2 linked regions of the Homo sapiens genome follow. The protein of the gene in region 1 purifies or fractionates together with the protein of each later gene. This does not show direct contact. Each region holds a gene or a part of one and is shown in the gene's direction. Other genes may lie near its edges. The genes, in order: DPP7 and CEP78.

Evidence for each region.
Region 2: the proteins of DPP7 (region 1) and CEP78 purify together in Homo sapiens (affinity purification with mass spectrometry, with the first as the bait; one large-scale study listed by BioGRID). This does not show direct contact.

What each region holds. Positions count from the first base shown.
Region 1 is NC_000009.12:137,111,712-137,116,017, reverse strand, and holds the start of DPP7 (dipeptidyl peptidase 2 isoform 2 preproprotein), read left to right. Parts: upstream 1-1,284; 5' UTR 1,285-1,304; coding exon 1,305-1,371; coding exon of another isoform or gene 1,372-1,441; coding exon 1,442-1,555; intron 1,556-1,635; coding exon 1,636-1,775; intron 1,776-1,989; coding exon 1,990-2,153; intron 2,154-2,521; coding exon 2,522-2,657; intron 2,658-2,730; coding exon 2,731-2,812; intron 2,813-2,898; coding exon 2,899-3,065; intron 3,066-3,212; coding exon 3,213-3,273; intron 3,274-3,787; coding exon 3,788-3,906; intron 3,907-3,988; coding exon 3,989-4,145; intron 4,146-4,263; coding exon 4,264-4,306.
Region 2 is NC_000009.12:78,274,042-78,277,410, forward strand, and holds part of CEP78 (centrosomal protein of 78 kDa), read left to right. Parts: 3' UTR 1-3,369. UniProt on the Homo sapiens protein: Centriole wall protein that localizes to mature centrioles and regulates centriole and cilia biogenesis. Involved in centrosome duplication: required for efficient PLK4 centrosomal localization and PLK4-induced overduplication of centrioles.

The sequences.
Region 1 (4,306 bases):
GTCCTGGGTGAGGGTTGCTGGTGGAGTTCTGGCCACCTAAGGCACCCGAGGGAGCCAAAGGAGCAGAGGTGTGGGGTGGGGGACGCCGTGGGGTACCTCCACATCCAAGGAGGTCTGCTGTTTGTCCTCACCCCCGTCCTGCGGGGGCCCCGGCAGGCAGCCCCAGGAACTGCGTAGGGATGGGACAGGGCCCAGATGTGAGGGCCGTGGTGGGGACGGTGTGTGGCCCTGGATGACCTCGTGTTGCAGTGTGACGTGATGGTCACTGCCACCATGCTGAGGGCCCCAGCCACCAGTCACCCACCATGGGGGGTGCCTCTGTGTGAGGCACGGGAGGGCCATGGCGTGAGGGGCTGTGGAAGTGGCCGGTCTTCTCCGCTCAGCCCCACACAGGATGGGCAGGGCAGGGTCATGCTGGCCGAGGGTAGTCTTGGGAGAAGGACAGGGTAACTCTCTGTAGCTGAGCCCCTGCTGCCCCTGCACCTGTTCTGGGCCTGGCTAGCGGCCCATGTACATCCCCAGCAGGACTCCACGTAGCTAGTCTGGCACCCACCACTACGGCCCCCTCACCCACTCCCTGAACTGGACGCTGGGGAAAGGTGACTTCTTCCATCCTCTGGGTGCTCCCCAGGGAGGAGGCCCCAGCTCCCAGCAGAGGCCTCTGGTCCCCCCTTGTCCCTGCAGGGCTGTGTGGGCACACTGGGTGCCAGTCGGAAGGGCAGGTGGCGATTCCCAGCTCTTGGGAGCTACCCGGCCACATCCCGGCCCTGCCCAGACGCTCCAGGGGCACCCCACACTCCTGCCCGCTGCGAGGCCCCGCCCCGCCAAGCCCAGCCCGTTATCGCTTGGACAAACCCTGGGTTGCTTTCTTCGGGGGGCCAGCACTCTGTTTGGGACCCTCTCCCTCCCGCCCTTAGGGCAGCAGAACGGCCCCCACTCTCCCGGCCCTGCCTTGGAGTGGGGCACCTGCCAGGAGCAAGTGCTGGGGAGGCTTGGCGGGCGCAGCAGGGACTCGCCCTAGCGCAGCTCCGGATGGGGCCGCGGTAGGAGGACGAGCCAGTGGGGCGGGAGGCCGCGGAGATGGCCCGGGGGCCCTCTGCTTCCCCGCGCCGTGCCCGGGAAGGACCCCTGGGCAGCGGCCGCGGGGCGCGGGGTGTTGGGGGGCACAGCCCCGGCGCGGCGCTGAAGCAGCGACGGTCTCCGTGGGGACCGCGGGCGCCCGAAACACGTGGGGCCTGGAGGGAGGAGCGCGCCCTGGCGGCCCCGTGACCCCGCCCACGTGACGGGCGCCCGCGGAAGGCGACATGGGCTCCGCTCCCTGGGCCCCGGTCCTGCTGCTGGCGCTCGGGCTGCGCGGCCTCCAGGCGGGGGGTGAGTGGCGGCGCCCCCCGGCCCATTCCCCGGTCCCGGCCCCGCCTCTGAGGTTCGCGTCCCCCCACAGCCCGCAGGGCCCCGGACCCCGGCTTCCAGGAGCGCTTCTTCCAGCAGCGTCTGGACCACTTCAACTTCGAGCGCTTCGGCAACAAGACCTTCCCTCAGCGCTTCCTGGTGTCGGGTGAGACCCCGGCCCCGGCCCGGCCGCCCCCGCCGTCCCGCCGCCCCCCGGCACCCTCGCCTCATCCGCCCTCCCCACAGACAGGTTCTGGGTCCGGGGCGAGGGGCCCATCTTCTTCTACACTGGGAACGAGGGCGACGTGTGGGCCTTCGCCAACAACTCGGCCTTCGTCGCGGAGCTGGCGGCCGAGCGGGGGGCTCTACTGGTCTTCGCGGAGCACGTGGGTGCCGGGCGGGGTCGCGGGCGGGGTCGCGGGGCACGTGGGTGCCGGGCGGGGTCGCGGGCGGGGGTCGCGGGGCACGCGGGTGCCGGGCGGGGTCGCGGGCGGGGGTCGCGGGGCACGCGGGTGCCGGGCGGGGTCGCGGGCGGGGGTCGCGGGGCACGCGGGTGCCGGGCGGGGTCGCGGGGCCGGGCTCAATGGCACGTTCCCCCAGCGCTACTACGGGAAGTCGCTGCCGTTCGGTGCGCAGTCCACGCAGCGCGGGCACACGGAGCTGCTGACGGTGGAGCAGGCCCTGGCCGACTTCGCAGAGCTGCTCCGCGCGCTACGACGCGACCTCGGGGCCCAGGATGCCCCCGCCATCGCCTTCGGTGGAAGGTGGGCGCCTCCCCCGGCCTCCGCACCCCCTCCCTCCCCTGCCCCGACCCAGCGCCCCCAGCCCTTCTCCCCACTCCCCTCTGACTCCCACCGCTGCCTTTTCGTAAGGCCTCAGGCAGTGGTTCCAGGCTTAGTGTTGCCTCCCCCAGGAAGCCCTCCCACCTGTCCTCCCAGCCACCTGCTCAGCTTGGATGTGCGGCCACACTAGCGGCCTTTCCCAGTGAGAGCTGCACCCGCACCTGGCCCAGGGTTGGAATTTGTGGGTCTCAGAAGTGTCGTCCTCCTTGTGGCACCTGTGGGCCCCTGAGGAGGAAAAGAGGAAATGGGGTGTTGGGGGCAGCAGCCCTAACCCTGTGTCCCTCACCCAGTTATGGGGGGATGCTCAGTGCCTACCTGAGGATGAAGTATCCCCACCTGGTGGCGGGGGCGCTGGCGGCCAGCGCGCCCGTTCTAGCTGTGGCAGGCCTCGGCGACTCCAACCAGTTCTTCCGGGACGTCACGGCGGTGAGTGAGGCTTGGGGTCCTCCAGGCCCCCTAAGGGACAGCAGCTGCAGTCAGCACGGTCTCTTTCCCCCAGGACTTTGAGGGCCAGAGTCCCAAATGCACCCAGGGTGTGCGGGAAGCGTTCCGACAGATCAAGGACTTGTTCCTACAGGGAGGTGAGGTCCTCCCACCGCCTCCCACTGCCTGACCCGCCCCAGCGCCAGCTATGCCCAAACTTCAAGTCTCTGCCCCTTCCACGCAGCCTACGACACGGTCCGCTGGGAGTTCGGCACCTGCCAGCCGCTGTCAGACGAGAAGGACCTGACCCAGCTCTTCATGTTCGCCCGGAATGCCTTCACCGTGCTGGCCATGATGGACTACCCCTACCCCACTGACTTCCTGGGTCCCCTCCCTGCCAACCCCGTCAAGGTGAGGCGCCGCCTCCCAGGGCGCAGGGAGAGGCCGGCTGGAGTGTCCCGAGGCTGGTGGTCAGCGGCCTGACCCTCATCCTGGGAGCCAGGGAGGCGGAGCTGGTGGAGGGGACCCCGCTGAGTCGCCGCTGCCCCTGCACTCCAGGTGGGCTGTGATCGGCTGCTGAGTGAGGCCCAGAGGATCACGGGGCTGCGAGCACTGGCAGGTGCCCTTCCCCCGGCCCCAGATGGGCAAGTGTGGAGACCCCAGGCTTGGCTTGGGTCCTGGGGCCGGGTGGGGCGAGGATCCGCAGCCCGGCCAGGGGCTTTGCCTCCTGCCCCAGGGCTGTGGTGGGGTGGACAGCACGACCTTCCCAGAAACCCTGGGGGAGGCAGGGGCCGTCCCTGGGGACCCTCTCAGCACTGGCTGTAGCCAGGCCCAGCTTGGTGGGTGCTGCCCAAGGGGCCCCTGGGGTCCCCAGCATGGAGGGCAACAGAGGGCAGCAGGCCCCACCCTGCCCCGTGGAGAGCGGGGGGGCCCTCAACAGTCAGGCCCGGGGCTGGCAGCACAGACACCGCCGACCTCCAAGCAGGTAGCCTGGAGGGCCTTCCTCACTGGGACCTACAGATCCCAGAGCCCCAGATCCCCTGCAGGACCATTCCGAGGGGGGACAGGTTGGTGGCCGGAGCCCGCGGTGTGTCTGTGTGTGGCCGCTGGGCCCCAGCGCCTCTCCTCCCCAGGGCTGGTCTACAACGCCTCGGGCTCCGAGCACTGCTACGACATCTACCGGCTCTACCACAGCTGTGCTGACCCCACTGGCTGCGGCACCGGCCCCGACGCCAGGGCCTGGGACTACCAGGTGTGGGGGTGTGGGTGGCCTGGAACCACTCGGGGGCAAGGGTGGGCGTGGGCTGGCCTGACTCAGGCTGGGGCACCTGCAGGCCTGCACCGAGATCAACCTGACCTTCGCCAGCAACAATGTGACCGATATGTTCCCGGACCTGCCCTTCACTGACGAGCTCCGCCAGCGGTACTGCCTGGACACCTGGGGCGTGTGGCCCCGGCCCGACTGGCTGCTGACCAGCTTCTGGGGGGGTGGTAAGGCTGAGGGGGGGTGGGCCAGCGTCCTGCTTTCTGCCCCGAGCTCTGCACCCCCTGCCCATGGCTCACAGCCCCCGTGAGGGGCCCACATCACAACTTTCTCTGCCCCTTGCAGATCTCAGAGCCGCCAGCAACATCATCTTCTCCAACGGGAACCT
Region 2 (3,369 bases), about 59 Mb from region 1:
TATTTAGAGAGATGAAAACTTAGTTCACACAAAACCTGTGCGTGGATATTTATAGCAGCTCCATTCATAGTGACCAAGATGTCTTCCAACAGGTGAATGGATAGCGATGTATCCATATGGTGGCAAACATGCCACAATTCGGATGAATCTCAACATCATATGCTGAGTGAAAAAGCCAGTCTCGGAAGGCTACATTCTGTATGATTCCATTTATATGGCATTCTTGAAAAGACAAAACTATAGTGACAGAACAGATTGGAGATTGCCAGGTGTTGGGGTTGGGAGGAGTTGATTACAAAGAGGCTGTACAAGGGAGTTTGTTTGTTTGTTTGTTTTGGTGATGAACAGTTCTGTATCCTGATTGCGGTGGTGGTAACGTGAGTCTATACATATGTTAAAATTTATAGAACTGCATACTCTCAAAAAAATTAGTTTTACTCTATAATAATATTAGAGCTTAAAAAATTCATCCCTCTTGCCCATCAGTAGATCAGGATATGAAGGATACCATTGAACATAAATATTTTGTATCCATGATGAATACAAAGTATATTCTCCTGGAAAACCAATAGAACATTCATATAAATGATTCCTATGAAGGTAAAAAACTTACAAAATTCAAAGATCATACAGATCATGTGCTCTGTATAATGTAATAATAGTAACAAAAGGCCTGTCCACTTGGAAATTTTTAAATGATCTTCTAAATAACTCATTTAAAGGAGAAATCAAAATAAATTGCAAATTATTTAGAATTAATAAAAACTTCTCTAAAGCTGAGGAATTCTACCAAAGAGGTGTTAGAGGAAATTGTATAGATTTTGATTTACTTTCCAGGAAGAAAGAAGACAAAAGAGATGAATTAAACATTTAAAGCTAAGAAAGAGATAAACCAAAAGAAAGGTGAGGAATTGGTAAAAGCAGAAATGAATAAAATAGCAAATTTTGATCAGTGAAACACAGGTTTTTAAAAATGAAAGATAAACCTTTGTAAAATATGATAAAGAAAAAAAAGCAAGAAGTAATTAACAAAAATTGCCAGCATTAGGAATAATTTTAGAAGGATACCTACAACTAGAAGAGATATTTTTAATTATGAGCACTTTTATAATTTACTATAAATAATTGTGTAGTGTTAAACCAATAAATTTGAAAGACTAGATGAAATGTGACTGTTTAAAAATATGGATTGTAAAAATTGATAAAAAATAGAAAATGTAAATAAACGAAACATCTTAGGAGAAATTGAAAAAATAGGACAAGAACTTATTTTTAAAAAGAGGCCAGGTGCGGTGGCCCATGCCTGTAATACCAGTACTTTGGGAGGCCGAGGTGGGCGGATCACCTGAGATGAGGAGTTCAAGACCAGCCTGGCCAACATGGTGAAACCCCGTCTCTACTAAAAATACAAAAATTAGCCGGGCTTGGTGGCGGGCACTTGTAATCCCAACTACTCAGGAGTCTGAGGCATGAGTGTCGCTTGAACCTGGGAGGCAGAGGTTGCAGTGAGCTGAGGTCACACCGTTGCACTCTAGCCTGGGAGACAAGAGGGAAACTCTGTCTCCAAAAAAAAAAAAAAAAAAATACAGTTAGAAAAACTTTAAAGGGGCCAGGTGTGGTGGCTCATGTCTGTAATCCCAGCACTTTGGGACACCAAAGTGGGAACATTGCTGAGACCAGCAGTTTGAGACCAGCCTGGGCAAGACCTCATCTCTACAAAAATTAAAAAACAAAACAAAACAAAAAAACCCAAAACTTAGCCAGGCATGGTGGTGCGTGCATGTAGTCCCAGCCACTCAGGAGGCTGAAGTGGGAGGATCGCTTGAGGCCGGGATTCGAGGCTGCAGTGAGCTGTGATCATGCCACCACTGCTCTCTAGCCTGGGCAAGAGTGAGACTCCGACTCAAGAAGAGAAAAAGAAAAACCTTCCAGGGGCACATTTATTTGTAAACCATTCCAGAGGATAGAAAAGAGATGTAAGGCTCCCTAATTCATTCCATACGGTTAGCGTAATCCTTATAGCAAACTGCACAAATAAAACACAAGGAAAACTAAACCAAATTCAATTAATGTAGGTGCAAAAAATCCAAAATAAAACTAGCAGTTTGAATTCAGCATTGTAGCAAAAGATATATCATTTTCAAGGAAGATTTGTACCAAAACATGCAAGATTGAGTGAAGAGTAACTCACTGTAGCTCACTAAATTAACAGATTAAAGAAGTATAGTCATCTTCACAAGCTGAAAGAGTATGTGATAAATTCAACATCCTCTGGTATTCTTAACAATCTCGAAATAGAAGGAAACTTCCTTAGCTTAGCTTCTTGGCTTCATTAAATATACCTAACAGAAATCCACAGGAAACAAACTTGGTGAAAAGTTTTTGCTAAGATAAAAACGGTACTAAAAAGTACACATTTTGGGAAATGAGACAAGGCTCTCGTTATTTGTAAATATGGGGTCTTTTTTTTTTTGGACAAAAAACCCCCTGTGATGATCTACTGGCATGCTATTACAGCTAATAAAGCTGAATAAGGAGGCTGTGCACAACACCAACACACCGGTATGAAAAGTGTGTACACCAGCAATAACCAATTAGAAAATGTATGAGGAAATAGACTCTCATCCACAATAGCTGCGAGAAGTAAATATTATCTAGAAATAAGATTAACAAGAGAAATGTAAGGCCTATATAAATAAAAGGATAAATCTATGCTAGAGGGTATAAAAGAAACACAAAAATAGAGGTATGCCATGTATAAGACCCAACATAATAAATAGTTCTACCAAATTAATTTATAAATTCAAAGCAATTTCATATAACCACAGTAAAGCTTTTTAAATGGATGTAATAACCTGATTATAACATTAATCTGAAAGTCATCAGGCATAAAGCAATTTTGATTACATCTCAAAACAATCCATGGAGTTAGGGTAAATGTGCTGTTCACACAGGAATAATCACAGGTATAGAACCGAGAACCTAGGAACAGAGCAATGTATATATATATGTATTTAAAAAATGGCATCACAAGTCAGTAGAGAAGGGTTTGAACTATTCAGTAAATGATGTTGAGGTTATTTACTACTTTTTCTTATTTCATATCATGGATGAAAAAAATCAAGATGAATTAAACATGGAAATTAAAAATAACTAGAAGAAAATACTGGAAAAAAATTGTAATAAATGTGTAAGAAAGGCATTCCCAACCAAGACACAAAACCCAGTAGCCATGAAAAAAAAGATAGATTTGACTACATTTTTAAAAAGTAAAACCTTTCACTTTTTACAAAACTTTGATAAAATTAGATTTCATAAATAAAGGAGTGGGAAAATACATGTAATAGAACAGAAGATTTAAGATAATAT